Regions from separate parts of the Homo sapiens genome. Here regions 1, 2, 3, 4, 5 and 6 are each reported to be linked to region 7. The links are microRNA targets in miRTarBase. Many come from high-throughput screens and were not tested one by one. Region 7 holds a microRNA gene; each other region holds the end of a gene's coding sequence.

Region 1 (4,473 bases), not on the chromosome of region 7:
CTTGAGGTCAGGAGTTCAAGACCAGCCTGACCAACATGGAGAAACCCCGTGTCTACTAAAAGTACAAAATTAGTCGGGCGTGGTGGTGCATGCCTGTAGTCCCAGCTACTCGGAAGGCTCAGGCAGGAGAATCGCTTGAACCTGGGAGGCAGAGGTTGCGGTGAGCCAAGATCACGCCATTGCACTCCAGCCTGGGCAACAAGAGCAAAACTCTGCCCCCCCTCCAAAAAAGGGGGGGTTTTCTTGCAGTCCCACCACCATCATTAAAATCTCTCTTATCTGTCTTGTCCAGGCTGACTTCAAAATTTCTGAGGAGTGCATCGCACAGTGGAAGCAAACCAACTTCATGACCAAGCTGGGCTCCATTTCCTGTAAATCGCTGAAAGGGGGGAACATTAGCTAGCCAGCCCAGCATCTTCCCCCCTTCTTCCACCACTGAGTCATCTGCTGTCTCTTCAGTCTGCTCCATCCATCACCCATTTACCCATCTCTCAGGACACGGAAGCAGCGGGTTTGGACTCTTTATTCGGTGCAGAACTCGGCAAGGGGCAGCTTACCCTCCCCAGAACCCAGGATCATCCTGTCTGGCTGCAGTGAGAGACCAACCCCTAACAAGGGCTGGGCCACAGCAGGGAGTCCAGCCCTACCTTCTTCCCTTGGCAGCTGGAGAAATCTGGTTTCAATATAACTCATTTAAAAATTTATGCCACAGTCCTTATAATTGGAAAAATACTGGTGCCCAGGTTTTCTTGGAGTTATCCAAGCAGCTGCGCCCCTAGCTGGGATCTGGTACCTGGACTAGGCTAATTACAGCTTCTCCCCAACAGGAAACTGTGGGATTTGAAAAGGAAAGGGAAGGGAAAACAGAGAACCTAGTGGTCTACCAAGTGGTTGGCAACTTTCCCAATGTCTGCTTACTCTGAGGCTTGGCACTGGGGGCCAGGGCCTGCCCCAGGGCTCCTGGAATTTCCCTTGATCCAGCTAGGCTGGGACACTCCCTAAATCAGCTGCGTGTTGTTAGCATCAGGCAGAATGAATGGCAGAGAGTGATTCTGTCTTCATAGAGGGTGGGGTACTTCTCCATAAGGCATCTCAGTCAAATCCCCATCACTGTCATAAATTCAAATAAAATGTCTGAACAAGGGTGTCTGGATGTGAGCTGGACCATCTCAGGAGAGAACACAAGTGTGAGGCAGCTGCTGGCCCCTCACCTAGTCTGGGGTTCCTTTACCCTGTAATGGGGGGTGGGGGGTAGAAGATGGACAAGACACCTTAACAGTCCCTTTGGCAGTACTAGGCAGAAGAGGCCCATACTTGGGTCCAATGTGTGCAGCAGGCAAAACATTTTCCCTTCTAAATGTGGGCCCAGACCACTGCCCTGTCCCCCCCACATTAAGAAGCAGTAGCCACAGCCAAGTTTCAATCATTTAATTAACATCTTTAAATGAAACACAGTTTTCTTCATGTGTCTCACTCAGGCTTCAGGGCAGAGGGAATGGATTTTTAGACATATCAAAGACTCAAAAATTTAAAGAAATATATATATGTATATATATACTTCTAACATTTTATGGAAATTAAAAATCAGAGGCTTTTGGTCTCTCCATTTACTCTAGGTCAAGCTCATTTACCCCAGAGGACAAAGAAGGGCTGCCTCTTCTAGACCCTCCCTTCTCCTTTGTCCTCTGTCCCACCCAGCAGGGAAACAAGCTCAGAAGATCCTAACAGGATAGAGTTCCAGTAATGTTGGAGGAGGGAGAGGGAAAGAGAAGTCAGGTTCTCTCCCACCTCCAGCCATTCCCAGGTTGCTGCCAGGGCCTGGTTTCATGCAGCTTTGACCCAGTCCTGGATCCTAGGGGGTGGGGTAGATCAGGAGCTCTGAGCAGAACAGTGCTCACTGATTATCCTCTTTCCCCAACTCAGTGGGCAGGTGCAGCGTACACCCAGCAGCACTCTCCACTGCCCACAGGCAAGGGAAGAATATTGATTGATTAGCTACAAGGAGAAGACAGTAGTGACTAGTGGAAAACACCCTGGAGAGGGCCAGAGGAACCTGGCTCTCACCACATCCCCTCTGTTCCCAGCCTTGGTGAGGGGGCGGGGAGGTCATGTCAACCTCTCTCCTTGGTGGTGAAGCTAAAAGCAAGGTTCCTTGCCAGACTCAAGCCCAAGTCACTGTTAAGGAAAGAGGATCAAGAAAGAAGCGGTGGCCCTGGGGGGCAGCCACGCTGCTGTGGACCCACAGGGGCCAATGGGGAAGCCAGCTTGCCTAGACAGGTGGCACAGGCTGAAAATAGAAAGGTTAACATTCCCGGAGAGTACAGTAAGAGAGGCTGATACCTAGGGGACCACCACCCAGCCTGCCCTAGAAGCACTGGGTGCCCCTCATTGACTAGAGAAGACTTGAGTAAAATGCACCTGTGGCTTCCCATCCTTGTCACTCAGCGTTAGCTGCCCCCAGTGGAACCACCTGTGCTGAAAGGCAGCTGCAGAAAGGACATGCACCGAAATGAGGAGAGAGAAAGGTCAGAGAATGAAGTGTGGAGGGCCAGGCCTGGGCCCACTGCTCAAGGAAGCTCCCCCCCTCCAGATGCTCCCTTCCATCCACCTCCTCAGTGCTTGCTCAGCCCAAAGGCTCCTGCCTCTGAAGTGCTGGGGGCCCACCCACCCCAGTGTGGTCAAGGAGGCAAGGGGCAGGTGCTTGACACTGCCAAGTGCCCCGAGATGACTCTACTGCTCACCCATTTCTTTGGGCCCTGGCAGTCTCCTACTTGTCCCCAGCATGGAGCACCTGGCAGAACTGGAAGGCAGGAGGGTGGTTGGTGAGTTGAGGCACAGGAAGGCCAATCCCCTCTGCACCTTTTGTGCTTTGGAATTCCACAGCCCCACACCTGCCCCCAGCCTAGAGAAGCCTGTGGGAACACAATGACTTGGCCACCTTCAGGAACCAAGAGGAGTAAACTGGACTGGGCAGGAGGGCACAGACTGGTCCCAAGCTATGGGCTGACTGCCGGGGATGGATTCTGCTGCCATGTAAACAGGCCCTTGGAATGCAACTTCCTGGGCCCTGGAGGATGGCCATGCAGCCACTTTTCAAAAGTGCTTTGATTCTGGACTATAGTATGTGCATGGTTTGGACATGAAAAAAAATGAAACTCAGGTGAGGTGTCCTGCTCCCAACTCTGCAGCCTCAGGGCCAGCAGGGGGCGCAGCCACCCTCTCCCGCCAGCTACCCACTTCAAGATGAGGCTAAGGCCAAGACTGAAGCGGCAACTGCCAGAGGTGAACCCATTCGGGAAAAGGCATGAGCGCAGGATGACTCTGAGGACAGGAGCAACACCAGGCTTGCATAAGTATCGAAGGCCGTGGAGGTTAAGGCTGCAGGCGCCCTCTCTATTAGGTTGTGTCTGCTGTATCCTCTCGTCCTTGGAGCTGCTCGGGTCCCTGAGATTGTGTTTCTGGGATGGGTCAGCAGTGCCAGTGAGGTGCCTGGTGGTCAGGCCAGCTCTTTCTGTGAGTCTGGGGGAGAAAAATAAGAGACACTTAGCAAGGGGCCTCCTGGCTTGGTTCTGGCACTAGGAGCCCAACAAAGCATACCCTCACCCAACCTTCTTACCGCTTTGATTTACTGACAGTGCCCGCAGCACTGGGCTGGACACCCTACACATGTTCAGACACTATAATGTAGGTGTCACTGCCCCACACTTTACAATGTAGCTAGGAAGGGTAGGGAAAGAGGCAAAGTTGGAATTCAAACACAGTAGGCCTGACACTCACACACCATTCTCCTCTGGGCCCCAGCAAGGGTGACAGCTTGCCCTTCCCAGGCATTCTCAGACCAGAAAAGTTAAAGATCCAAGAACAAATCCCCCATGGCGGGACTTCAGATTCCTACTTCCCATCATCAGCAATGGGACCTCACCCTAGCACTGCCCACTGTACCTGAGCCCGGGAGGCCCATCTTCTCCTCTGGGCCCACCAGCTGCAGGACACCTCCATTCTCCGCCAGCTCCCTCTTAGTCCTGTCCTGGGTGTGAGGGAGCCCATTGGTGGGAGGAGCAGTAAGGGGCTCAGCTCGAGGGTAACTGGGGGAGGCGGGTGGGGGGACTCCCACAGACGGCTTGCGGGCCACAGGTGGGGGAGCCTTAGGTGACTTCTTTGGGGCCTGGGGTGGCCGCTGCTCTGAGATGCTCCGGAGTTCTGCCACCAGATTCCGCTGGAGGTCAGCCTGGGTCTCAGGGGACACGGGCCGCTCCAGCTGCAGCTTCCTAGAGCCCTTGGAGAAGATGAAACTGGCCGTTGAGGCAGGGGACTGGGGAGGCCGTGGCTCTGCCTCAGGCGGTCCGTTGGGCTGAGCACTTGAGAGGCCTTCACTGGCGGCCAGGCTGCAGGCCTTGAGTCGGACCGCAGCATGGAGCCCTGAGGAGGGGGCAGGCACTGGGCTGGCCCGCCCTGACAGGGCCCTTCGCAGTG
Region 2 (4,473 bases), not on the chromosome of region 7:
CAGTAGAAAACTACAGCACATTTACAGCCTTATTTGGTCACTGTCTACCTGGTTGCTACATGAACAAAACTTCACCTAAGACACAGAAGAAAAATTAAAGCTATTTACACAGATAACACTGTGGATTCGAAAGAGCAGTCCTCTGCAGACCGGCACTCCATCTGACAAAAGCCACAGTGCTCACAGAAGAGGCAAGTCAGTCTGCTCGCGTAGCGTCCTTTGAAAAATCCCAGTGTACAAACATGTGCCACGTCACCACACAAAACCAAAGTCTGCTCAGAGAGGTGGGCTATGGTGTGCAGGCTGCAACCTTTCTCTGCAATTGTTAAGTCTTCAAAAATCTGAGTTCCTCACATAAAATTCTGTGCTGTGGCCAGAGCTCGTTTTACCATTTTCTTAGATTGGATCACTTTTAGGATCAGCTTCGTTGTTCTTTGCGTAGACAATGACTCTCACAGCTTTCTCCAAGTGTCCCAGAAGCACTAACTTACTGAAAATAGAATCTCATCAAAGCTTAACATATTCACTCTGAAAACAGCGGAGCTGCTGGGTCGCTTAAGGAAAGCTGAGAACCTCAAACCTGTGGAAGGAAAACCAGTGACCACTTGTGGCCTTATAAAGTTGATTGGCAGGTGAGGAAGGGGATCTCAAGAGGAGAATCCGAATTTCAAAGACATGGGAGATTTGTCCCTAATGTTTTCATACTAGTGCTCTTGTTAAATGGAAAACCCTTCCTGAATGGGGAAGATCTGAGGCTAAATCTGGATCCTGGGACTCTCATTCTTGCCCACCACCATCTCCCTGTGGCTGTCATTCTTCCCTGGAAGTGAATGAATACTGAGAACACAGTAAGAGGAGGGTGGTCACAGCTGACTTCACAAAGCCTCATGGAGGTTAAGTTGTTCAAGAATTTAAAAAGTAAACACCCCAAATCCTCCAAAATGGAATACTGTGGAAAATAACTGAAATTTCCACTGCTTAAGGCTTCATCCTATTAAGACAGCTGAGTACTTGGCCTGGCCCGATTTTCACCTTTCCTTTTACACCTCAAGAACAGCAGATAGGTATGCATAACCACAGCAGAACACACCCTCCACCTCTCTGACTGCTGACACTGGCTACAGGAATAAGGCTTTGGTTATCATCTAGCAAAATGCCACAGAGCATGGACGGACTGAGTTTGTTCTAAGGAAAGGAGTTTCACCAGATAGTCTGAAGAGGCCCAGCCCAGCAAAGAGATTTAGAGCAGGAAAGCCTTTCATTAAAGTAGCCACACACCCCTCGAGACAACCATAAAGACTTGACTAGGAAATCAAAAGGTTTTTATTAAACAAGACTTCCTCTGAGGCTATTCGAGCAAGCAGATTTGGCTATAAGTCAGATACGCAAGATTTCTGAACCATGTATAAATACGTTCTGCAGAATTTCGAAGTGTGCGTCCTTTGACTTTTCCAGGGATGCACCAGGGGCCAACCCGTTATGTAGACACGGTTACTGTTTTAGGACTGGGTGACATGGGGCCTGGGTAAAAAAATAAGGCCAAAACTGAGTAAGCTCAATTTATAGAGCAATATCAGTGCTGGACAGATCTGCCATGCTTCGTTTACATCATGTTTCCTACTTTTGATTTCTTCATCTTATTTATAGTCTTCCTCCCATCCCCTGAACACAAACTTGACTTTATCTTCTAACTAAGATCTTTCCACTCAAGGGGGCGTAGGAAAACAATTCCTGGATGCCTTTCTAACTAAAACCAGCAGGACTAAGTGCTCAAGATTTTATAATATTTCGATTTAGAGGTTTCTAGAGTTATTCCTGAGACGTGCCATAGCAGTAAATGAATTGGTGAATTGAGTAGAAGGTAGTTGTGACATCTACACCCAAATTCTTACTCTGGTGGCTTGAATAAAACTGGAGAAGCTCAAGGTAGGGCCCAGATAGAGGCCCAGGAAAGCAAATAAATGAAAGACGGTGGGGACACAGGAAGGATCCCAAAGACGGCAGCTCAGGGTCCTCCACGGAAGACTTGCTCAGGTTTCCTACTTACACATGACTCTGAGTGCCAGGGCAGAACAGGGAGTGGACCACACTGCTGTCACATGCCCGAAGGTTTTCCTACAGCATCAGACTCTGCCACGAAGCAAAGCATTTTCCACAAACTTCTCTCCATAGAGATATCTGGGGTAGCTAAGATCTACTGCAGGAGGAAGAAACGTGCTGCAGATGAAGACAACTCCTGACAAGGCCGAAGTCCCATTCTTCCCAGGCCAACACTTGCACAAACACCTGGTGGCGTGAATTCCCACAGTATTTCACCTGCCAGACGGCACTGTCTCCACACCCTGGAATGAGTTCTTTCCTGAGCAGGAGGGGCTCCAGGCCTTTTCGAATACAATACCGACAACTCCAGAAATGCAGGTGATTTACTGCCCTGGAGGAGAGGTTCCTATCCTCTCCTCTGGGAAGAAATTCAAACAAATATGAGAACTGGAATTAGCTCTCTAGCATGCTGGGGGGGTCACGTCAGTGACCTTTTTTCCTTTTTGGGTCAGAAGAGTGTTTTAATTACTCAAAGTTGTCAAAATGGTGGCAATACCTCAGTAGCTCAGCAGGAAGAAGACTAGGTAATTTTGTGGCCGTACAAGTCTGCCTAAGAGACAGAAGTGAGTTTTATAATCTACTTGGCCATTCCTCCCAGCAGAGAAGCAGCAGGTAGATATGGCATGCACTGTGCCTGCTGCTGCTGCTCTTGTGGCGAACACTCAGATGTGGAACCATAGAGGGACCTTGAGGAGCTGGGACATGATTCTTTAGAGAAGAGAAGAGACAGGGAGCACAGCATGAGAATGGCCAGTCAACCCATTTCAAATTCTTTTATTAAAGTGCCCCCCGAGGGGCCTTGCACAAAGATGATGGGGAGAGCAGAACTGCTGCTCCTTGACAGAACTCTGATCCTTACACTTTGTTTGGAGTGGGCTTGGGGACAGTCACAAGCCATGAAACATGAATCCAAAATGGTCCCCAGATGAGCCATGGTGAACCAACAGATGCAAGCAACTTCTTAAACTGCTCTATTAAACACTGCTTTATATGTGTCCCCATGATACAGAAAAGTGGGATGGGGCCAGCCATTCCAGAAATGAAAATCCAGACTCTCACAGAGAACCCTTGAGCCACACAGGAAGACCACTGAAGACAACAGAGGAACTACTGGTCCACAGAAACACTCAGTTTCATGAAAACACACTGATTCGGTTAGAAAATGCAACTTGGGAACAAACATTACACAACAAAGACCCTCTGTCATGCAGGGCACTGGCCCGGATGCTGCCTGGGCTGTGTGGGCTGGAGGAGGTGGGGACAACCCAGCCTGGGTGGGACTTGGACACAGAACTTCCTTAGCAGGGTGTTGGAAAGTCCCAGGCCTGTTCTGTGGAAGGGGAATAAAAAACAGATTCAAGGAATGTCAAAAACACGAAAAAAAAAAAAAAAAATCCCTGCCTCACTCCACCACTGCCATAAAAGAATAGAAACAGAGAAGAAAAAAAGAGAAGGGGGGCGGGGGGCAGACGGCAATCCCTGAAATAAACCTCAGGCTTCCTAGAAGGTGGGCACTTACTTACATTTTGAGGCATGACCCCCTACTTTCCAATGCAGCACTTTTTAACCCGTAGATAAGCTGGCAGCTTGACAGGCTGAAGAGTCCTCTGCCATTTACACCTGAAAATGGCTGCCCCAGCTACTCTAGATAAAATAAATATGACATATATACCCCAAATAGTCAATGGCCACCTCGGAGGCCTATGAAAGGAACTGAAATACAACAACACTTGGTAGCAGCCTTTGTGTTTTGCTCTTGTTGAGTTGACCTGTTACTAAAGAAGAAATGGAAACCAAAGGGTCATCTTGAAGCATAGTCTTTTGGCCATGAACTCCCCGCTTGGGCTGGGAAGAGACTGCATCACTTGGAACTCAGCTGGGGCACTTCCCAGTTCCGTCCTGCCAAGAGGCATCCCAGCTTTCTTCCCCTCTGTCCTCCCAATCCCCTGGGCCATTTTCATGACAGCTTGTTTCCATGTATTAAAGGAATGACATATACAGAAATGTCGTCTCCTGAGCCCAGTCGGTCATTAGATATCCGCCATCCTCTGTCCTTCAGCACACCCCGGGCACGCATCACCAGGTCCTGAGCTGCCAGTGTGTACCTACACAGGAGAACCAGGAACGAGACAGTCAGTAGAGCATCAGACAGAAGCCAGGGTCAAGTGAGGCTGGGAAGGGGGAGGCATCACTACAGTTGTATAAATAAGTTTCAAATACACTTACAATACGAAAAAGACAAGGTCATCTTTTCCCAAAATGTAGGACACCTAATGTGAGATTATTGTTTACATGGTAGTGGGATAAGGCACTAAATACATTAGATAATGTCTTACATTATTCACCTCCTCAGTCCTCTTTTGATGTTTTTGA
Region 3 (4,473 bases), not on the chromosome of region 7:
TGGACCTGAAGGAAAACAATCTGAAATCTATAGAAGAAATCGTTAGCTTTCAGCACTTAAGAAAGTTGACAGTGCTAAAACTGTGGCATAACAGCATCACCTACATCCCAGAGCATATAAAGAAACTCACCAGCCTGGAACGCCTGTCCTTTAGTCACAATAAAATAGAGGTGCTGCCTTCCCACCTCTTCCTATGCAACAAGATCCGATACTTGGACTTATCGTACAATGACATTCGATTTATCCCCCCTGAAATTGGAGTTCTACAAAGTTTACAGTATTTTTCCATCACATGTAACAAAGTGGAAAGCCTTCCAGATGAACTCTACTTCTGCAAGAAACTTAAAACTCTGAAGATTGGAAAAAACAGCCTATCTGTACTTTCACCGAAAATTGGAAATTTGCTATTTCTTTCCTACTTAGATGTAAAAGGTAATCACTTTGAAATCCTCCCTCCTGAACTGGGTGACTGTCGGGCTCTGAAGCGAGCTGGTTTAGTTGTAGAAGATGCTCTGTTTGAAACTCTGCCTTCTGACGTCCGGGAGCAAATGAAAACAGAATAACTTATTTTTCGTTAAAGTTTGACTGAAACACGCTTCTACCAAATACAGTATAAATAATTAGGTAGTCTTAATGCCTTTCCTATTTTTTTTTCCTTTTCACACAAAATGTACACAAAGATCGCGTAAGGAGTATGTATTTTTAATAAAAATTTAATTGTATTTTTTCAATATTAATATTTTGAAGTTTTATTTGTCTTGAAACACAATGTATCTATTATCTACTGACAGAAAGAGATAGTTCCATTTGGTTTTTTGTTTTTGTTTTTTAGTTCATTCTTGTGGAAAGGAGGGAATTATAAGTTGCATGCTTTTTGGCATTTTTTAAATAGAGGAAGATATTTTGCCAAGGCCATTTTTAACTTGTTTACACCTGTACAGGGTTCTTATTTTTGTTTTCATTGTGTGTGTATCAAGGAATCTGTGCTAGTTATTTTAATACCAGCTGTCTTCTCCATTGGCCAAGACCTTCATTCAGTGGAACTTCACATAAGTGCATTGTCATAGAGTATTTTAAATGTTCCCCTGCCTCCAACAAAACCCTAAACTGTGTTATTTCATATACCTGACAGTTATTGTTATCCTTAGGCAAGGTTTTTGTGAGTGAAGAAAATAATCTTTAGTGGCTGGTATGTTTGAATTAGGCCTTTATCATTTAACTTATTTGCATTTTACCAACATTTTAAAAATATTTAAAACCTAAATACAGAGGCTCCTCCCACCTTAATCTCAATACTGCTATGTAGTACTGGTGAACAACTTTGGAGAACCTAGATTTATTTTAATATTCTAATAGATAATTAAATTTTAAAATGATAGAAGCCTGGTTTTTGAGTAATTTAATCATCTTTCATATCTTGATATGCAGCTGCATCAGATGGAAAAAAATTTACTAAAGCACCCTGTTAAAGAGCTGGTGTGCTCCAGTGAGGCCCTCTCCTTTTCTCAGCACAGTGTGGCAGTGGTAATCTATTCAAATTTTGCCTGTTACACAAAATAATCCACTTATATATACAGTCAGCCTTCCGTACTTGTGGGTTCTGCATCTGTGGATTCCACCAACTGTAGATGGAAAATACTCAAAAAGAAAGTTGTGTCTGTACTGAATATGTACAGACTTTTTCCTTGTCATTATTCCCTAAACAATACAGCGTAACAACTATTTAAATAGGATTTACATTGTTTTAGGTATTATAAATTACCTAGAGATGATTTAAAGTATATGGGAGGATGTGCATAGGTTATATGCAATTTCTGCACCATTTTATGTCAAGGATTTTGAACATCCTCAGATTTTGGTGTTCGAGGGCATCCTGGAATCAATTCCCCATGATACCGAGGGATGACTGGATATTAATCGATTTCCCTCAAGCCTGCCCTTGCTGTGAACTAGTGCTACAAGCACGGGAAATCCATCTGCTCTCTGGCTTAAAATATGTATCTCATCTAAAATTGTTCGTTAAAGTGTGAATAAATTGCTAAGTGGTTGTTGCTTAGCAATAATTTTTGCCTGACCATCAGCAGAGCTTTTATTTACCTTTGTAATTAAAATCCAACATAGCATGGGCTCTTGGGCAAAATATTTCACTGACTATTAAGCATGTAGAACAGGAAAATGAAATACACTATTTGTGCCCTTGACCTAGAACCAGAACCACTAATTATGAGAACTTTGTTTTATGTACCAAATTCACATTGACCATTTTCTGAGCTCTAGACTGATCGTAGTAAGTTTTGTGACTTAACAATGAAAGAAAGTAGAAAGATGCTTTGGGTTTTCAAAATGTTGTTTTTTAAAATTGTTCTTTGGGTGAATTTACTCAGTGCTGCTTTGAGTTGTATACAGAAACAAATGTTGGGAATTGCTCCTCAGAAATGTGTTCCTAAGTTGTGTTTTCAACTTTACATCATGAGGTGAAGCATTAGGGAAAGAGATTCTTTCGATTTGTTTAATAATCTAATTATACAGACCAAAGTGCTTTACGTTTCTGCTCTATGTTAATGTTTTAGAATGGTGATTTTGCTGATTAATTTAGACCTGGAATTGAAATAATGTGCTCAGAATAATAACATGGTTATAGTTCTTGTATGATAAAGTATTCAATTTCAGAATAGTGTTGGAATCCTGAGTTTGAATAATGTGTTGTATTTAGAAACATAGCCCTATCTGTTTTAAACAAATAATTTGTTGGCCGATTGTCCATGGTTGAGCATGACAAAAATACCTCGTCGAAAGGCAAGCTTAGGTAACTGCTGGCAAAACACTGGGTGCACTATTTTTCTGGATAAAATTTATAGTTATTTTCTATATTACCCTTCAAAAGGGATCTCTTCAGGTTAAAAATCACGCTTATGCTGAAGTCTTTATCTGGTGTTAACTAAAAATCTCATATGGGTTCATAACCGAGGTCACTAATAATTCATTTTTATCACTTGTAAAAATTTGCTCAAAATTCCAAAAAAATATTGATTTGTTTTTTAGTGATTTTGCAGGCTGACCCCCAACCTAAGTTTTGATAACATCTGGTAAGTCAGTATAGTTCTGTGACTTCATGTTTTAACTAAGAAGGAAAATTCATAGATATTCCTATTAGATTTTATAAACCTTCAAAAGTCTGAAACTTAATTTTGAGTCTAAATTTTCTGACACTGGCCCCTTTTAATATTGTAAGTTTTTGTTCACTTTCTTAAGTAAAAAAAACATTTAATTACTAGTTAGCCCTTAACTGGGAAACTCAGGTAATGAACTGCTGACTTTTCTAAAGTTCTTTAACTGATCAATTCTGTATAGAGGGATATTTATCTAACCACTTTCCGTATTTTACAAGTGCTCTTTCTAAAAAGGAATAACTATTATAGCTCTATTTCCCCAATCTCTATAGGACTCATGAGAGATTGCTTGTGTAAATATAAAAGCACCATATGTGTTCTTAACTCCTATGGCTGCTTGAAGCTCATGATGAAAAAGTCTTTTTGTCAGTTTTAATTGTTAAGTACAGAACAAACAATTGTTTGGTGATGGCCTGGTTGAAAGAGAGCATATAAATATATCCCAGTGGAACTCACCAAAGAAGACCACACCTCAGAAATTATTGCATTTTCTCATTATGTGTTGGGTTTGATTTGCTTTTGTTTTTAATGCAGCTCTTTTAATATAAAGATTCTTGATACAGTGAAATCTCTTATTTCAAGTGTAAGTTATTCTTCACCCACCCCTTCCCCTGCCATTGTATTTCCCATCTGTTTCAAGGAGTTTCAACAATTTACATTGCATCGTATGCAGTAGGTACTGCTTTTTCAGAAAGACCTGGAAAACATACCTGCTATGAATATTTTGTTCAGATGTAGCCATTTACCTGGCTCTCAAGTTGTCTTTGTGGAGAGGGTCTTAGACAAAAATCTTCCTTGTATTTACTTGGGTTAAGTGAAGTCCAAATTCTTACAGTATGCTATTTCAGGATTTCTGATATTAAAAAAGAAAAAACAAAATCTTTATATCTCTTATTAACACTTCCCCCAAGAAGGGTTGTGCTGTTATTTATTTTCTATTATAAGAAAAGTTCATTCTTTAAGTAGTTTCTTTTACCTCTAATCTAATTTCATACCAAATACCTGATCAATAGAAATGATATATTTAAGCAGCAAAGATTCCTAATCCATCATTATGAAAAGTGTCAGCATACTTAGTAGTGAACAGATAAAGTCAATTTGAATATAATTCCACTTTGTTTTTAGAGACTAAATTAAGATTCAATTAACATTATCCTATGAATTCTGAATGTGATAATGTGATTCAAACAGTCAAATTTTATTAAGCTCTTAGTAACTCAGGATAGCATTCCATACTAACCTCAAGTTAGCAAAACAAATTAGTTAAACAGCTTGGTTCTTAGCAGACTGCTTAAAAGATCAA
Region 4 (4,473 bases), not on the chromosome of region 7:
GAATTTCTCAGAAAATAGAAGTTTGTATTTGGTAAATGGGGTTAACAAATAGAAAATGGGGAACAGCTGTCACATTACGATAACACTTGAAGACTTTAAAAAAGAGAGGTTCTAGAATGGGCTTACACACCTGACCGAGCCCCTCTAACTTACAAAGTTACCTGTAATTTTGGCCATCAAAGCCCTGGACCATCATGTTTCCTCTTCCTCACTCTGCCACCAAAGGTGAGATTTTAACCAATCAACTGGTTCTTTAGAAGTGAGTGGAGCCCCTTCAGTCTATGAAGTAACAGAAGTGAGTGAGACAATGGCTGGGTCATAACTTCTGCTTGTTGGTTTGAGCATGGGCCCATCAGCACCTTTTACTTCATCTCTGTAACTATGGATCTGAGACACATGATCCACGTGTTCATCTGACTTGTCCCGTACCTCCTGCCCATGAAAGTATTCTGTTGGGTCCCTGGAGCCTCTTCTGGGCAGTGGCAATTTGTTGTCTGGTTGCTTTTCAGGTGCTGGAGTCAGGACCTGGCACACAGCAACAAGCAGTTCTGTGGGCAGGTCCCACTTGTGTCAGACTACATGTTTAATATTAAAAGCCTGATTTTATAACCCCAGGCTGACATGGCTTTAGGTGCCTTTAGAAGTATTTGATGCTATCCTTCTAGGAGCTATGTTGTTCTCTAGGAGCTTGAGGGTAACTGGAGCCAAATGACAGGCATTTCCCAAATACAATCTTTTGGACCTAAGTGTTGGAGGTGGTATGCTGACTTTGGATTGTCTTAATGCTCAGATTCTGGGTCTACTTTCTACATAAAGCTCACACATCACTGTGGGTCAAACACAAATGCTTCTCATTCTTAGTTTAGATACACTGTTCTGACACTTTTTCTAAGAAGGCAGAAAGAGAAGACATTTATCACTTCCCATAGTTAGAAACTAGTTCCCCCACATTCCGCTGACCTCCACTACTTCTAGGATTTGATTTTTGTTAAAACTTGACATAGGGCCTGCAGCCGAGAACCAGAATTTAGGATCCTGAATATACCATGAAAGCCGTTGGACTATATTTGTTCAGCATCTCCAGGACAAGGAACTGAATGGCTTTCTCTCCAAGTGTTAGCAAATAAGACCTATGGTTCAGTTATGTAATGTGTCCCTGAGGAGGGTACATTTTTGTATGGCACAGCAGTTTGTATGCATGAGAGCTCTTGACATAACAGCATTTTTAAAACAAGCCATTTAATTAAAACATCTCACTGTAAAGAAATACCTTATTTATAAATCTGGATTTTCTGGTATAAGGTGTCACTCACCTGGAAATGTAACATGTAAACTGGCCACTCAGATCACAAGATGCAAACAGGGAGGGGGGCCATCAAGACTGTGTTTACATTGTTCTGTAATTTTAGCTTAATACTCCATGAAAATATGGGACCTAGAATACTGGAGAAGGCCATTGTAGGTAATAAAAGTAGGAATCCGGTGTCTCTGCCCAGCTGATCATCCTTTCTATAAGATTCTCACAGAAGTGAAGACAGGCTGGTAACAAAGGAAAACAAAGTACCATCTTATAGTTGAGGTTTGTGCCCCAGCCACCGCAGCAGACCTCTGGGTAGCTGGGTGGAGCATCTGGCCTGACCTAGAACCTTACAGAGTCTCACCTCTTACCAATCCCCAGCTTCAGCTGACTCCCAAGAGTGAGCCGGAGAGCACCATGACGCTGGCCGCCCCAGGACCATTTACTGCTCCAGCCTCTGAGTGTACCCTATAGGATACTCTGAACTCACAGGAATAACCTAGTTCCACCAGAGCAGGCCATAAATGGTGCACTCCATTTTAATACAGACAAACACGAACAAGTAACAAAGGGAGGATGACTGCAAGAGGGAGAGGCAGGCGCTCTCTTATTAGGAATGAATGGAGCTGATGGGAGGAGTAGTATTTTAACTCTATGGGCTGTTCTGTCAAACACAGAAGGATTAGCCTTGTTCTGAAAAGCTCACAGGAGTGAGCTTCGGCTCATGATGGAACTGTGTGTACAGAGCTGTCCAAAGATGGACCAGCCTGTCTCTAGAGGTGGAGAGTTCCCTGTTGTCCTGGAATTTCCAAGATGGCCTGAGGCTCAGCTTTACAGGCAGGGCCTTAGAAGAGGGGCCGGCACACTGGCTGGGGCCCAATTCTATTAAATGCTTCTCAAACTTGTCTAATTACAGAACCATCTGGAGAGCTTTTTAAACAATCATGATTTACCAAGCTTACTTTAGACCTAATGAATCAGACTCTCCACAGGATGAGGTCCAAATGGCACTGAGTTCTCTTCCAGTCCCATGATCCTATGATTTTAGAATAGTTGGATAGTTTTTAAACATTTACTATTATTCATCTATTATTAATACACATCAGAAAAACAAACTGGTTACATCCTCAACTTAGTTCCCATAAAAGTACCTAGTCCTTTTAAAAAGAGAATACACATATATCCCACATGCCCATAAATGCTTTTTATGACATAAAATTAGAAACATTAAAAAATCCAAATACCGCATAAGATTAAAACATTGTTTAAGATAAATGATTACTATGCAACAATATTACTTCCATTTTAAAACAATAGTTAAGGAATAAATGGGCTTAATTATTAATTATTGTTGTCTCAGAAGGAAAAATACAAAATAGGTTTCTGTAATTTTAAATGCATTTCTGTAATATTATTATTGTTATTATTTTTTGAGACAGTCTTACTCTGTCGCCCAGGCTTGAGTGCAATGGGCGCAATATCGGCTCACTGAAACCCCTGCCTCCCGGGTTCAAACAATTCTCCTGCCTCAGGCTCCCAAGTAGCTGGGATTACAGGCGCCCACCGTCACGCCCAGCTAATTTTTTGTATTTTTCGTAGAGACGGGGTTCTGCCATGTTGGCCAGGGTGGTCTCAAACTCCTGAACTCAGCTGATCCACCTGTCTTGGCCTCCTAAAGTGCTGGGATTACAGGTGTAGCCACTGCACCCAGCCTAAATGCATTTCTGTAATTTTAAATGCATTTTGTGAATAAGGAAATGTGGATGCACATAAAACCAGATACAAAAGGCTATAGTTTGATAAACACCAGCTAGTCCGGTACCTGGGCTATCTGGCAAAATGTCAAACTTTAACTGGTGATCAGGAAAAAGGAACAATCAGGTTTTAAATACTCAATGGTCATTTATTATATAACTTAAACTCATTCAATACATTAAATAACTGTTTTAAATAATTACAATTTTTTAAAATTAAAGAATATGTCACTGATCTTAACGAGACTTCCAAATCGTCTCAGCAGGGGCTCCAGACTTCCCCAGCAGGCGGCAGGTTTCCTGTCATGCTTTCGCCTTCCTTCTCATATACACCAGTGCTAGAGTTCATCATGTGTCAAAACTATAAGGGAGAAAAGTTTATTTAGCTTCTGGCATCTTAAACATAAAAATATCTTAAATATTACTTACATATGATGAGGAAGCACCGGTACTGACTGAGGATCCTTTATTTGCTAGTTCAGTACCTATATGCTTCATTACGCAACACGAGAATAGCTCTTTGTACACTGTGATGTCTATTATATTGTCTCATAACTACTGGTCTTTCTACCCACCTAGAATGTGAGCTCCCATGAGTCTATGAGGACAAGGAACATACCTTACTTATCTTTGTTATCTTTAGGATCTAGCATCCTGCCTGGCAGATAAGAGGTCTTGAAGAATACTAACAGATTATTCACTGTGAATACAGTATTCTACCCTTAATGTAATGGAACAACAGAAAGCAGAGGACATATTAATATATAGTCGTCATCTAAGATGGGAGGACACAGCACTCTGACATAGACATAAGTACTACATAAATGCAAGCACAATTCTGATGAGACTCTCAGAGAACAAAATGGTCTCTTCTGCATCACTGAGCTGTCACATACCAACTGATGTAAATCACTGAGAACTCAATATTTTCAGGCAGAAATTAAATAAAATACAATTTAAATGCATGCTGTTCCACAATTCAAGATGGCAGACTATATTTCTTCACTAAATTCTACTGGAAAGATAATAAATATAAAAAGGAAAAACAATAATGAGAACGAGGGAAGTGGTTACAAGACACTTGTTGGGGCAAAGTTACCAATGAATTTCAAGAAATGGGAAACAGGGATAGACTGCACGAAACAACTTCATCCCAGGATACACCGCTGAAACGATGAGTTGGCTTTCCTGATGGAGGAGGCTGGACGAGGCTATAACAAACGCCAGTGGACAGTGAGTCACACAGTGAGGCTATCAAGTAAAGGGCCGTCCGTGGAAAATCTGTGCCTGTCAGCTCCCCACCCCACTCTCATTCTTCTGAATCCAAAAGAGAAACTGACAGCCTGGTATTAGCTATCCTTTTTTGTTTGTTTGTTTGTTTGTTTGTTTGTTTGTTTTTTGAGACGGAGTCTCACTCAGTCG
Region 5 (4,473 bases), not on the chromosome of region 7:
CTCACAGCTATCCCCTGTGAAGAACAGTAGCTCTTATCATTCTCAGATTATTTTATTTCAGTGAGAAATTCAGCTCAGAGCTAAATACTTGTTCAAGATCTCCTTGCTAACGAGAGGCGGGACTAAGATTTGAACCCAGATTTGTTGAACCCATTCTCGGGCTCTGAGTCAGGAACGGTCCTACCACAGAGGAGTTGCTACAGAGCCAAAGTTCTCATGAGGCCAAAGTTCTGGGGGAATCTGCCTTGGAAGCTCTCAGACCCTTGCTGTATGTGGAACAGAAAGGCCACTAACAGCTGCCCTTTGTGCTGGAGAGTTGGACTCCAAGTTTCATTCCCAGCTAGTTGGTGCCAGTGTCTAAGTCTAGTGTGAGTCAGACCTTTGACCTATCTAGTAAATAAGCCCCATAGAGTTCCAGGATGGCACCCACAGGGCAGGGCTGCTGCCTGCCTTTGCATCATCACTGGGCCCTCGCATCACCAGCCCTGCAGGAGGTACACATTCATGGTCTGTCAGCCTTCACACAGTACAGCTTCCCACCACACCTGATTTGAAGCAGCATCTGAAATGAGGCTGGCAACAATGCTGTGGAGGCAATTCCAAGTCATTTCAAAGAGAGATCTAGCTCTTTCCTCTTCCTTTCAGATAAGCAGATTTGTAGCTGTTCCTACCCTGTACTCCTTCTGTATAAAACCGACTCGAAGGTGCCTCCATTCATTGTTGGCTGACCATTCCTGCTTTTAAGAGGTCGAGGCCATCCTGGTCAACATGGTAAAACCCCGTCTCTATTAAAAATACAAAAATTAGCTGGGCGTGGTGGCATGCACCTGTAGTCCCACTACTCGGGAGGCTGAGGCAACAGAATCGCTTGAAAGCAGGAGGTGGAGTTTGCAGTGAGCGGAGATTGTGCCACTGCACTCCAGCCTGGCGACAGAGCAAGACTGTCTCAAAAAAAAAAAAAAAAAAGTCCAGAGTAGAAAAATATTTGTTGAATTATTAACACAAAAGAAACAAAAACCTATGTGCACACAAAAACCTATATACTATTTATTTTTTTAGACAGAGTCTCACTCTGTCACCCAGGCTGGAGTGCAGTGGTGCAATCTCAGCTCACTGCAACCTCTGCTTCCTGGGGTCAAGTGATCCTCGTGCCTCAGCCTCCTGAGTAGCTGGGATTACAGGCCCCCACCACCACGCTGGCTAATTTTTTTGTATTTTTAGAAGAGACAGGGTTTCACCATGTTGGTCAGGCTGGTTTTGAACTCCTGACCTCAAGTGATCCACCCACCTCAGCCTCCCAAAGTGCTGGGATTATAGGCATGAGCCACTGTGCCCGGCCAAACCTATATGCAAGTGTTTATTGCAGCTTTATTTACAATCTCCAGAAGCTGGAAGCATCCCAGTGTCCTCCAACAGGCCAACAATCAATGGAACACTACTCAGCAACAAAAAGTATCGAATCGTTGATCCACGCAACATGGGCGAACCCCAAGTGCATTCAATATGTTGAGGGAAAGAAGCCGGACTCAAAAGGCCATACCCGAATTCCATTTATATGACACTATGGAAAAGGAAAAGTGACGGGGTGGGAGAGCAGACCCGTGGTTGCCCAGGGTTAAGGGTTGGGGAGGTTTGACTACAAAGGGACAGCATGGGGGAGTCTTTTTGGGGTGATGAAAGTTTTGTATCTTGATTGTTGTGATGGTTGCATGATAGAACTGTACACCAGAATGAATTTCATAGTATGTTAATTTTAAAAAGTCAAGTGACTGGGCTGGGCATGGTGGCTCACGCCTGTAATCCCAGCACTTTGGGAGGCTGAGGTGCGTGGATCACCTGAGGTCAGGAGTTCAAAACCAGCCTGGCCAACATGGTGAAACCCCGTCTCTACTAAAAATACAAAAAATTAGCCAGGTGTGGTGGCACATGCCTGTAATCCCAGCTACTTGGGAGGCTGAGGCAGGAGAACTGCTTGAACCTGGGAGGCAGAGGTTGCAGTGAGCTGAAATTGCACCATTGCACTCCAGCCTGGGCAACAAGAGTGAAACTGCGTCTTAAAAAAAAAGTCAAGCAACTGTTGAAGGTTTCAGGAAAAAATTGTGGTGAGGTGGGGAAGCAGGGAACCACACTTAGATACTAGTTAATTTCGATGGATCCCTGAGTGCATAAAGGCTGACTGTATTCAGTAACAAATGAGCTTGCTGTTCTCAAAATACATCTGATAAAACTGGAGTTTGTTGGACTTTAGCTGCGTAGAGAGGTCACAGGTATGTCTGGTGTAAGAAATTACAGACCTGCTTGGAAGAAATTAGTCTTTGCTAGAACCAAACCCTTCAAGTTCCATGAGCCATTATCTGAGACAATCAGTGTCTGATTACATCCTAGCAAAGTCCATAGAAATGCTGCCTTCAGTGGAATCCTGTCCCAAGGGGAATGCCTGACTTACACGATGCACCCCAAGGCTGTCTGTGAAACTTACTTGGATGAACTTTAAGATCAGTGCTTACCTGAGGGCCATGACTTTGTGGCTTAGATGATTATTCCTTTGCCAGGAAGGTCAATTATATACCAAACTCTGAACATGTGCTGACTGTAAGTCTTTCCCGGTTAAATGCATCATTCTAATAAGTTCATCAACTATAAAACCTAGTGATGGATTGTTTTTTCTCCCCTCACCTTGCTGCTGAAAGAAAGATAAAGCCAATGTAGGGCTTGGGAAGATCACATCCAGAGTTAAAGCTGGACTTCACAGCTGCCCAAATTAGTCAGGTTCTAAAGAAAAATCACATGACAGACCTATTTTGCTCATAAACAATTTTATTTTTTTTCTCAGTATGTGCCCTTGAAGATTCCAAAATGTTGGAGTTTCTGATTCTCCTGGGATCAAAGGTAAAAGCATTGTATGGAAACACTCAACCTTGGCTCATTACCCTCCTGAGGAGCTAAGTCTGGAGGCCTCAGAGAGAGGGAGCTGACATTCACAACTTATTCCAAGATGGGTAACACAGTGAACAAAGAATTAGTAAAACATAGACTCAGTCTGTAGAGGGCTTCAAATATACATATTCTATATATATAAACCTGTTATATAGGATTTCAACTTATTGGTTTCCTTGTGATTTGTAATTAAAGTACAAATTATAAAGATGTTGCACACTGCTGATTTCCCCTTCTCAGCCCCCCTCCCTCCCCAACATAAATAACATTACAAAGGTCAGGTGATCCTAAGAATTTTTGTTGTTGTAAATATTTTGTTTTTAAAATCATATTCCCCTTCCTCCCCTGCAAACTACCTCTGAGAGTTTGTAACACAGCAGCATGGAATGGACAAGACTGGGGACAGCATGGAGGTCTAACGGAGAGAGCGCAGAACGTTGCTTCTCACTGACGGGCACCAGATGGGCTTCCGCATTTCCATTGACAACAGAGGCTACGACAGGAAGCAGAGAATGTGCAATGCGGCTTCATCCTCCTCCAAAGAGAAGGCTAGCTGGACCACTGAGAAAAGCCCTAAAGGCATTGAGGTTTTTGGAGACAGAGCACAGCTCCAGAAATGTCTTGGCTCAGTATTTACACAATATCTTGAAGCTGCACTTTCCTTTTAAGAAATGTGTGTTTCTGAAGGTGCCTCTTCTGAGGTTGGTTGGGGGAAAGGAGAAACGTAAAAACAAAAACAAACCAATTCCCACATATGTAAAAGTCCTGTTATAAGTCTTAGTTATTTTCACACACATCATTAATAGTAGATACTGACAATGATTGGTTTCTTTTCTTATTCTTTTTTTTTAGAGCATGAGTAAAGAGAAAGAGAGAAGGAAGAAGTGCACTAAGGAGAGCGCCGTCCCTTCTTCAGCATTAAGTGACACTGGATGGTCTGGATTCGGTTCTTGGCTGGGACAAACTCGGGCTGAAGCTTCAATGTGGATTCATACCACACCAGTGCTTTTTCAAATTCTTCCTGTGAGGGCCAAGGAGAGAAATGTGAGGGGATGGCACCAGCAGACTAAATATATACTGTGACCTCTTTTTTCTCAAGAAGCACCTCTGTACTAGGGACAATCCCGCAGCATTTGCTCAACGGATCTAAGTCTTTGTGGAAAACTCTGAGGTTCCTCTGGGAGGAAACAGCTGCCTTCATTCCCGAGGTATGGGAATGAGGTATGGGATGAACAAAGGAAACTACGGCAGAGCCCAAGAACAAAAGGAAAAGGGGTAGAGCAGCTTTTACAAACCCAGCAACAGTAATAATTGTGGTAATAATGAGACCTAACATTCCTGAGTGCCTGAAGTGTGCCAGGCTGTGCTAGGTGCTTTATGAAATCCTTCCATTTAATCCTCACAGAAACCTCCAGAACCGTGCCTGACAAATGCCCATTATGCATCTGCCTAAATTTTCTAATGTAGCTGGAAAGACGGAAACTAAGTCCGGTATCTCAACTGGACTTGTACATTTTGAAGAGTTTTAAAATTCTC
Region 6 (4,473 bases), not on the chromosome of region 7:
AGATGACTAGACTAGTGATATCTAATAGAATTTACTGCAATTACAGAAATAATCTGTACTGTCCAGTTCAGTAGCCACCAGACACAAGAGGTTCTCGAGCACTTGAAGTGTGGCTTATGCAACTGAGGCACTGTTTTTCTCATTTTATTTAACAAATTTAAATTTAGCTACCTAGTGGGTATTGTACTGGACAGAGTGCTGCTAAATCTAGTTGTCAATAGTCACTGCACATCGTGAACTCCTCTGTTTGTGGGTAACTGCCATCAACCTGTCTTTTTCAAGATACACTTCTTTCATCAGGAACTTCTCTTTGTAAATTGTTATTTCCTGAAACTAAGACATCATATTTAAACGTCACCATATCTCAGCTGCTTTTCCACAAAGTAAAAATGTTTTAATGGTGTAAAATAAGGATAGCCTCTGGGAGGCATTGTTTGCATAATTTTCTGTTATCAAAAGGAGCAATTGTATCAGTTATTGCTTGCATAAAAGACGAATGAAGTTCTAGCAGATCATAAAAAGACCCTCTCTATCAACATACTATGAGTCTGAGCTGGTTGAGAACCCAATCTAACTAACTTTGCAATAAACTAACACATGATTTTTGGTGGATGCAGTTCCCATTCCAAATACATTTATCTTTCTTTGTATTTATGAGTGTGATAGTAATCGATAGATCTTTTTCAACAAAAAGCCACCTGATATCTACATTTCATAATTCCTAAGCAAGAATCTTAGGAAACACCTCTGTTAAAATATATGAAAATTGGTCCCTGGTTATCTGTCATAGCTTAACTCCTTATCTTAACCATATTTCCATTATCTCTTTTGAAAAGGTGCAGAGCGTGTAATTACCTTGAAAATGGAAATTCCTGGATCAATGCCACCTCTCATTCAAGAAATGCTGGAGAATTCTGAAGGACATGAACCCTTGACCCCAAGTTCAAGTGGGAACACAGCAGAGCACAGTCCTAGCATCTCACCCAGCTCAGTGGAAAACAGTGGGGTCAGTCAGTCACCACTCGTGCAATAAGACATTTTCTAGCTACTTCAAACATTCCCCAGTACCTTCAGTTCCAGGATTTAAAATGCAAGAAAAAACATTTTTACTGCTGCTTAGTTTTTGGACTGAAAAGATATTAAAACTCAAGAAGGACCAAGAAGTTTTCATATGTATCAATATATATACTCCTCACTGTGTAACTTACCTAGAAATACAAACTTTTCCAATTTTAAAAAATCAGCCATTTCATGCAACCAGAAACTAGTTAAAAGCTTCTATTTTCCTCTTTGAACACTCAAGATTGCATGGCAAAGACCCAGTCAAAATGATTTACCCCTGGTTAAGTTTCTGAAGACTTTGTACATACAGAAGTATGGCTCTGTTCTTTCTATACTGTATGTTTGGTGCTTTCCTTTTGTCTTGCATACTCAAAATAACCATGACACCAAGGTTATGAAATAGACTACTGTACACGTCTACCTAGGTTCAAAAAGATAACTGTCTTGCTTTCATGGAATAGTCAAGACATCAAGGTAAGGAAACAGGACTATTGACAGGACTATTGTACAGTATGACAAGATAAGGCTGAAGATATTCTACTTTAGTTAGTATGGAAGCTTGTCTTTGCTCTTTCTGATGCTCTCAAACTGCATCTTTTATTTCATGTTGCCCAGTAAAAGTATACAAATTCCCTGCACTAGCAGAAGAGAATTCTGTATCAGTGTAACTGCCAGTTCAGTTAATCAAATGTCATTTGTTCAATTGTTAATGTCACTTTAAATTAAAAGTGGTTTATTACTTGTTTAATGACATAACTACACAGTTAGTTAAAAAAAATTTTTTTACAGTAATGATAGCCTCCAAGGCAGAAACACTTTTCAGTGTTAAGTTTTTGTTTACTTGTTCACAAGCCATTAGGGAAATTTCATGGGATAATTAGCAGGCTGGTCTACCACCTGGACCATGTAACTCTAGTGTCCTTCCTGATTCATGCCTGATATTGGGATTTTTTTTTCCAGCCTTCTTGATGCCAAGGGGCTAATTAATATTAACAACTCCCAAAGAAACAGGCATAGAATCTGCCTCCTTTGACCTTGTTCAATCACTATGAAGCAGAGTGAAAGCTGTGGTAGAGTGGTTAACAGATACAAGTGTCAGTTTCTTAGTTCTCATTTAAGCACTAGTGGAATTTTTTTTTTTTGATATATTAGCAAGTCTGTGATGTACTTTCACTGGCTCTGTTTGTACATTGAGATTGTTTGTTTAACAATGCTTTCTATGTTCATATACTGTTTACCTTTTTCCATGGAGTCTCCTGGCAAAGAATAAAATATATTTATTTTAAAGGTGTGTGGGAGCTTTTACTACACCTTTATCTTCAGTAAAGAGACAGAGAACACAGTTCCATTTTTAATGTTTAAATTTCATTTCAAAAAGCAGGTCTGTAGTTTGTAACCATGACAATTAAAATCTGTGCTAATGCACGGCAGTCTATAACAATTCTACAAGCCAATCAGACAGTACGTGACATTTCAATGAGTAAAAAAGAGCATAAAACTGTATGTGTAAGAACAAAATGTTAAAAGGCCTACCACAATAATAAAAAACCGTCAATTACATCATCACATTAAAATAAGCCAGATGTACAAAAGTCTGAGACAGAGAAGACAAAAGGACAACACAAGATATTTGTTGAAAAATGTTTGTGCTCTTTGGGCACTTAATTAAACATTGCAAAATCAACATCATCTTCTTCTTCATCAGACTCTGCAAAATATTTTACTTCTTTCCTAGCCCGACCGGTTCGTGGCAGAGAAGGTGGCTCAGTAGGGAAGTCTGAGGGGAAGATGTCCACATCTGAATCCTGATCAAAAGATGTCTTCTTCGGTTTCTAGATTTTTTTTCAATAGATTTAAAAGTTATGAAAGGAAGTAAAGACTAGTATTAAGAACTATCACTCCTTAAACTTCGCTTATGTTTAGGAAGTATTACAAATAATGGTGCTTTTAAAATTAGAATCATAATGCTAACCTAAGTGTAAGACCAGTTATCTTATTTTTTGGAGGAAAAAGATTACATACAGTAATTCACCACCTTGGTGGTTTCATATTTACCAAGTTCTAGCCTGAAAAATGTAACACCTTTATTTCTGAAATTATATATTACCCAAAAAGTATGCACAATGCCCAGATTAGTAAAAATTCAAGCTGTCCTACTGGTAAGTACATATCAAGAATTCATGGGAGGAAACAAGACTCCTGCACCGTGTGTAGTATGTGTGCACTGTAAGTGTTTAAAAAAATGCAAAGCATCACCGAGGTGGACCTGAGACATAGAAGATGACTGAATGGAAGAGGTCAATGTGGAAATCAACATAAAAAGGGATGCGGGGGAGCTGATGTCATTCATTTACCTAAAAGAAATAGTGTACTTCTGGAAAAGGGTCAGACTAATTGGAAAAATCAGCCACAGTCAAATGAATTCAATTAAAAAAAAAATCAAATTAGCCCTGGTCAAATAAATCCAAGTTAAAAGGAAACAGTCTTTAGTCTGAAAAATAATATTTTAGTCTGAAAGAGTCTAATATTTAGGTAGCATAACACTACTACAGTTCAGTGGATGAAATGGAAGGTTCTAAGTAGGTTAATTTATAGCACAGTTATTTAGGAAATAGTCCTGATTATATAAATTTATACTTGAATAATTTCTTAACCAAATACAAGCCCCATATTGATACGAGATGCTAGGTGGAAAGCTGTTCCAGGACTATAGTCATAAGCAAACTAAGTCACTTACAGATCTTTTTTTAAAAAGCCATGCACTAATATGCAATGATGTTCCCGGTTACCTTGCTTGTTGTTTTGGATGTTTTCCTGCCAGGGTTATAATCGCCTTCATTTTCAGAGCCAGATGCTTTCCTTTTCTTTGCCCCTCGGCCTTTACCTTAAAATGATACAAAAGGTTTTTTCTTCCGTGGTTAAGTGCAATATAAAAAGATAAATGCCACAACATTGTAGTTTATTTCTTTGGCATGCCCAATCAGTGGAGCATTGCAGTCCTGATCTCTTACTATGAGTGATTATAAACAATTTGGCAGTAGCATTTCAATTCTGGGGTTGACATGACCAAAGACTTTTTGACAAATACATTTAAACTAGTGGGAAAGTCCCAAAGACAAATTTTAATGATGAATCCCTTCATACATAAAACATTTGTATTTGCTATTTGGTCCTTGAGCCTGAAAAGGAAATATCTTGGAAGAGTACTTCTTAAATTACATGGGATTTAAATATTTTTTTTCATTTCTAATTTGTCATGGGCCAATACTTTTAAAAATACCATAGAACACAAATTACTAAAAAATGTAATCACATGCTGTTTTAGTAACACATTATTATAAAGGTCTAAATGTTTACTCCGTTTTACTTATCAAAGACTAGTAACAACCAATTGCATATCCCACATTAAGT
Region 7 (4,473 bases):
TCCAGGAAAGCAGCAGGATCCCCAGGGAGCACCATCAGGCCACACGTGCAGGGGAGAGGGGCTCGGGCTGCCATGGGCGGTGTCCGTGCAATGCTCATTTTTAATTCAGCAGATCAGAGACTGGAGGTGATTTACCGCCAAGCAGGCCGCAGCTCTCTCCCTGTGAACTCTCCAGTTTTACTGCTCAGTCAAACCTAATTCCAAAACACTAATGCTTTTATTTAAACACCACATCCTGCAATAAAGCTTTAATGTACAACAGCCGCATCTAGGGGAAAAGAACGGTGTGTCTGTGGCCACCGGCAGCCTCGGTGGCCACACGCCCGGCTACTTCCCTCCCTGTGGCCGGAGCTGGGAGCAGGCAGGGAAGAGATGACGTCAGCGGATGCTGGGCACTGACCCTCCGGGTCCAGAGGCCGAGAGGAGGCTGTGCCCGAGGTCAACACCCGCCCCCTTGCTGCTACGCCAGATGGGGCTGAGGCTGGGAGAACGAAGTTTCCAGAAGGAAGACCTGAAGGCCAGGAGCCCTGACTGCCAGGCCCTCCCCTCCAGTCACCTCGAGGCTCCCTGAGGGGTGGGAGCCACCTGAAAGCTCAGAACGGCCCCCAATCCCTTTATCCAGCGCTCCCTATGCTGGCCCCAGCTGCTCAGGTGACCTGGCTGCCCCCAGACCCAAGGCCTCCAGCCGCTGCAGGAGGGGGCTGCCTGCCTGTCCCTTCCCGCCTCATTCCTGCCGAAGGCCAGGGTGCGGGAGGTAGGGCACAGGGGCACCGCTGTGGCTGGAGCAGTGCCAAGGCAGAGAGGACACACACCCCAGAAATTAATCCTGAGGCCTGTGGCAGGGTGGGGGTGCCCAGGCAGGGACCTGGCCTCATCCCAGGTGGCAAACGCCTCCAATCTGAGACTCAGAAACGAGCCGGGCAAACGCCCCTCACACAGCAGCCCAGCCGCTGCCTAAGACCCCAGAACCCGCCGCCCATCCTCTCCTTGAAGGACCAGCACTGGGGAAAAGGGTTTCACGGACGGATCCGGACCTGCCCTCATCCCCTGGGCCCCAGGACATCCTCCCAGTCCTTTCTCGGGTCAGGACTGGGATGGCGGCAGAGCAGATGGCTCTCAGGCCCCCGACAGGTGGGGCAAGGGGCCCTGGGCCACACGCTGCTTTCTGCCAAAGCCTCACCTGCATTCACAGCAAAACATGCCTCAGGTTGGATTCGGCGGAACAGAGAGAAAGCTGAACCGGGGCTTTGGTGGGGGTACAGGTTGGGGCGGCATGAACCAGACATTTGGCAAAATCGAACGGCTCCCAGGCCCCTGGGGTGGGCTGTGGGTTCAGGGCTGCACAGACTCAGCTCCTCTGACCCTGTCCCAGGTGCCCTCGGCAGAGGAGTGGGGCCTAAGGGCAGTGGTGGCCCTGACCCTGCCCGCGTCCCCAGCATCTCGTGTGGGCTGCGCCTTCCTTGGAGGCTACATGCCTCCGAGTTCCTCTGCCTTGCCCTACAGCCGGGAGGGCTGGATGCAGGTGCAGGAGGTGCCTTCCCTCCGCAGACTCTACCATGTGCTGCCCAGCCTCTCCCTCCTTTCTGCATCCAGCCACCTGCCCTTTTCCAAACTCGCTCTTGTCTTGTGCCTCTGAGCAGTTTCTGCCCTGGCCACACGTGGCCCTTTCTGCCGGCTGATGGCCTCTTCCAGGATGGCCATCAGTGGAGCCCCCAGAGCCGCCGCCACCACTCCGTGCTTTCCAGCCACGGCCCCGACCCCCCAGCCCTCACCAGCCCCGCGCTGGACCCCGCGCCTGCCGGAGGCCGCCTCCCCTCTGCCGCAGTCAGCAAGCTGAATATTTAATGTCTGGTGAGCACTTCCACCTGCTGACACAGGCAAAGTGACAGAACAATGCTGGCGGGGACACGACCGTCCACCAACGCCCAGGCAGCCTGCCGCCCCAGCCTCACCCCCACCACAGCCGCCTGGCTGGCTGTCGGCCGCGGCGGCCCCCGTGGTGTGGAGTGCCCCTCAGTGCGGCGAGAGAGGTCCCGGCCTGAGATACATACTTCTTTACATTCCATAGCTTAGCAGGTCCATATGGGCATATAAAGAAGTATGTTTCCCAAGCAGGCAGTCTGCATGCAGTTCCAAGACCCCGGGACGCCGCCCCGGTAGAAGCTGACCCCACTGCGATGTAGAGAAGGCAGCTCAGAGGCAGTGTAACTTCTTCCCTGGAGTCTACTGCCGGAGCCCTCTCTGTGTGAGCAGGACAGCCTTCCTGCCACTGCTGCCTGGTGTCCAGCCACCCCCAGGGGCCCAGGACTCCCTGCCCCCTTCTGACCTCGGCGCCCCTCCATCCCTGAATCCATCTCTCTCTGTCTGTCTCACACACTCACACGATCCAGAAAGGCAGAAGTGGACAGTGAGCCCCAGAAAGTCTCGAGCGCCTGTCCCTGGCCCCAGCAGTAGCTCGGTTTTGCGTCCATGGAAGAGACAGGCTGCCCCTCCACCCTCACCCCAGAGCAGGGAGGCATCATCCATGTCCCAAACTTTCAAAGCCAACACTTTCCTGTCCCCCTGGGTCACCTCATCCCAGCCAAGCCCAGAGAGGGCTGGGTGGAGAGAGGAACCTTGGGGGGCGCCCTGCCCAGCACCCCACTCGCAGGACCAGCCTCCTCCTTCTCCGGGAGCTGGACAACTCCTTGCTCCTGAGGCCAGACGAGGAACTGCAGACCAGAGACCCGAGAGGTGTCCTGGGGGCTTACCTGGGCATCTGCTGGTTTCCTGGGCAGGTCCCTGGTGAAGGCTGCCTCCCGGGACCCCGTATCCATGAGGAAGGGCTCAGCACCTCTCTCCGAAGATGCAGGCGAGAAAGACGATGCTTGGAGGAGTCCAGGTTCCCAGAGGGTGGTCAGGATCTCCTGAGAGGCCGTCCACTAGGGGGGCAACTCCCTAGGTGCCTCAGCCTGGCCACAGCAGACACCCAGTGGGCGAGGGAGCGTCGCTCCCCCGGTTCTCTCCCTCCTTCTCTCGCTCTTCTTCACCCTCTCCCCCGTCCCCGCCTCGCAGCGTCACCACCCTGAACCGCCGCGCAGTGCGGCCCACCTGAAGCGGCAGCTGCGCAGAGCCAGCAGCTTACATGGGCACCGGGGGTCAGCAGCCACCGTCACCTGCCCAGCGCCACTGCCGTGGCACCCCCGGGAGGCTGGTCCCACACCTGGCTCTTTGTGGCCAGCCGCCCAGCCTCCACCAGCCCCTGATCAATACCAATTTACAGTCAAATGCAGGGGGCCGCCTTCCTGTTAATGAATTTCCCGGTGCTCACCAGCTCCTAATGAGCCTGTTAAAGAGGGTTTAAGTAAACTTAGCGAGTGGCAAACTAAGCACTTTGGAATACTTAATTGTATCGATATGTTTTTCATTGCGTTTAAAAATGTCTCTGAGTGGGAAGCAGAGGCTGCCTCCTTCCCTGCCAACTTCTATGACCAGCCGTGAAGCCAGACTCTGAAAAATGTGGAGAAAGAGCCAGAAGGAGACCAATGGGACCTCAAGGTTAGGCCCTCACCAGCAGGAAGGGAAGCCGCCCCGAACCTGCTGGGAGCGGGGAGAGGAGGAGGAGGAGGAGGAGGAGGCCTGCAGGGTTTCGAGGCCTCGCAGTGGCCCAGGGCGAGCCTGGCACGTGCGGTGGTGAGAGGTGGAAAGAAGGCTTTGCAGGTGCCTGGGGGGGACGGGGGCCAGGGAGGCGCCAGTTGGGGGTGCAGGCCGGGCACAGACACAGGAGGCTTGCTAAGCGGTGGGGTCCAGCTGGGCCCTGGCCCCTGTCCTGCCACTGACCCTGGCGTGGGGTGGGACAGCAGCCCCGGGACATGAAAGGACCTCCCGTTGTCCTCATCAGGAAGAGAGGTCCAACATGACTCTGTTGCTCCTCCAGGCAGCCCGTCCATGCGAGGGGACAGCCCGGAGCGAGTTGGTTCTCTCTTACCACCCAGGGCAGGGCAATGTCTCCGCAGAGCCTGCAGTGTGCAGAGGCCACTGAGCATGCTGTGGCTGTGTGGCAGTGGGTCTGCAGCTGGGCATGGCTGGGTTGGAGTTTCACGTGGGGGTGGGTGGGGGCGGGGGGTGGGGGTTGTGCTTAAGGCTCTGGAGGCATCCCCTCTACAAAGGAAGGAGCAAATGGCAGACAGAAGCAGAAGCTGATGTCCCATTTCCACGTAGCTGCTGTGATTTATCATTTTCACGTAGCCAAGGATACAAAAAGGGCACCCGACACCGCAGCCTGAGCTTCAACTTCGGGGGCACCTGGGTTCCGCCGCTCATCTGTGCCCTCCCAAGACCTCCGCAATAACCGTCCCCGGAGTCCAGGGAAAAGGCCTCCTCAACGTCCCCAGCTCCCTGGCACATGAGCTCTCAGAGCCTGGGACACTCCCGCAGCCTGGCTCAAGCCCCCACGACCTGTGAGGCATTCATCTGGACGGGGTCTGGGGGTCA

Evidence for each region. The annotated mature microRNA hsa-miR-1-3p reads UGGAAUGUAAAGAAGUAUGUAU and lies in region 7 at 2,044-2,065, opposite strand. An mRNA with a match to its seed (bases 2 to 7 or 8) in the 3' UTR can be bound and repressed. Matches are read on the target gene's strand: a 7mer-m8 pairs with bases 2 to 8, a 7mer-A1 pairs with bases 2 to 7 and ends in A, and an 8mer does both.
Region 1: the mRNA of NHSL3 is a reported target of hsa-miR-1-3p. Seed matches in the 3' UTR shown: 7mer-A1 at 3,047-3,053.
Region 2: the mRNA of PPM1H is a reported target of hsa-miR-1-3p. Seed matches in the 3' UTR shown: 7mer-m8 at 3,461-3,467 and 7mer-A1 at 2,344-2,350.
Region 3: miRTarBase lists LRRC8C as a target of hsa-miR-1-3p. Seed matches in the 3' UTR shown: 7mer-A1 at 4,397-4,403.
Region 4: miRTarBase lists UGGT2 as a target of hsa-miR-1-3p. The part of its 3' UTR that is shown has no 7-base or 8-base seed match.
Region 5: miRTarBase lists TTC17 as a target of hsa-miR-1-3p. Seed matches in the 3' UTR shown: 7mer-A1 at 3,320-3,326.
Region 6: the mRNA of RARB is a reported target of hsa-miR-1-3p. Seed matches in the 3' UTR shown: 7mer-m8 at 1,055-1,061.

The regions. Positions count from the first base shown.
Region 1 is chr1:32,771,911-32,776,383 of GRCh38, reverse strand. NHSL3 (NHS like 3) reads right to left here. Exons shown (of 7, transcript NM_020888.3): 6 at 3,943-4,473; 7 at 1,414-3,519. The coding sequence ends at 3,497. YARS1 (tyrosyl-tRNA synthetase 1) reads left to right here. Exons shown (of 13, transcript NM_003680.4): 13 at 293-1,145. The coding sequence ends at 403. Among named protein-coding and RNA genes, the nearest start is that of NHSL3, 32 kb to the right of the region's middle. RefSeq lists a silencer at 3,082-3,376.
Region 2 is chr12:62,644,432-62,648,904 of GRCh38, forward strand. PPM1H (protein phosphatase, Mg2+/Mn2+ dependent 1H) reads right to left here. Exons shown (of 10, transcript NM_020700.2): 10 at 1-4,205. The coding sequence ends at 4,058. Among named protein-coding and RNA genes, the nearest start is that of MIRLET7I, 43 kb to the left of the region's middle.
Region 3 is chr1:89,714,420-89,718,892 of GRCh38, forward strand. LRRC8C (leucine rich repeat containing 8 VRAC subunit C) reads left to right here. Exons shown (of 3, transcript NM_032270.5): 3 at 1-4,473. The coding sequence ends at 563. Among named protein-coding and RNA genes, the nearest start is that of LRRC8C, 84 kb to the left of the region's middle.
Region 4 is chr13:95,798,401-95,802,873 of GRCh38, forward strand. UGGT2 (UDP-glucose glycoprotein glucosyltransferase 2) reads right to left here. Exons shown (of 39, transcript NM_020121.4): 39 at 3,180-3,412. The coding sequence ends at 3,390. Among named protein-coding and RNA genes, the nearest start is that of DNAJC3, 120 kb to the left of the region's middle.
Region 5 is chr11:43,493,258-43,497,730 of GRCh38, reverse strand. It overlaps TTC17 (tetratricopeptide repeat domain 17), which reads right to left. Exons shown (of 24, transcript NM_018259.6): 24 at 2,800-3,958. The coding sequence ends at 3,827. Among named protein-coding and RNA genes, the nearest start is that of MIR670, 64 kb to the left of the region's middle.
Region 6 is chr3:25,595,584-25,600,056 of GRCh38, forward strand. It overlaps RARB (retinoic acid receptor beta), which reads left to right. Exons shown (of 8, transcript NM_000965.5): 8 at 837-2,349. The coding sequence ends at 1,033. It overlaps TOP2B (DNA topoisomerase II beta), which reads right to left. Exons shown (of 36, transcript NM_001330700.2): 35 at 3,852-3,946; 36 at 2,401-2,894. The coding sequence ends at 2,724. Among named protein-coding and RNA genes, the nearest start is that of TOP2B, 67 kb to the right of the region's middle.
Region 7 is chr20:62,551,943-62,556,415 of GRCh38, reverse strand. It overlaps MIR1-1 (microRNA 1-1), which reads right to left and starts at 2,110; the gene lies at 2,040-2,110. MIR1-1HG (MIR1-1 host gene) reads right to left here. Exons shown (of 4, transcript NR_171007.1): 2 at 2,751-2,951.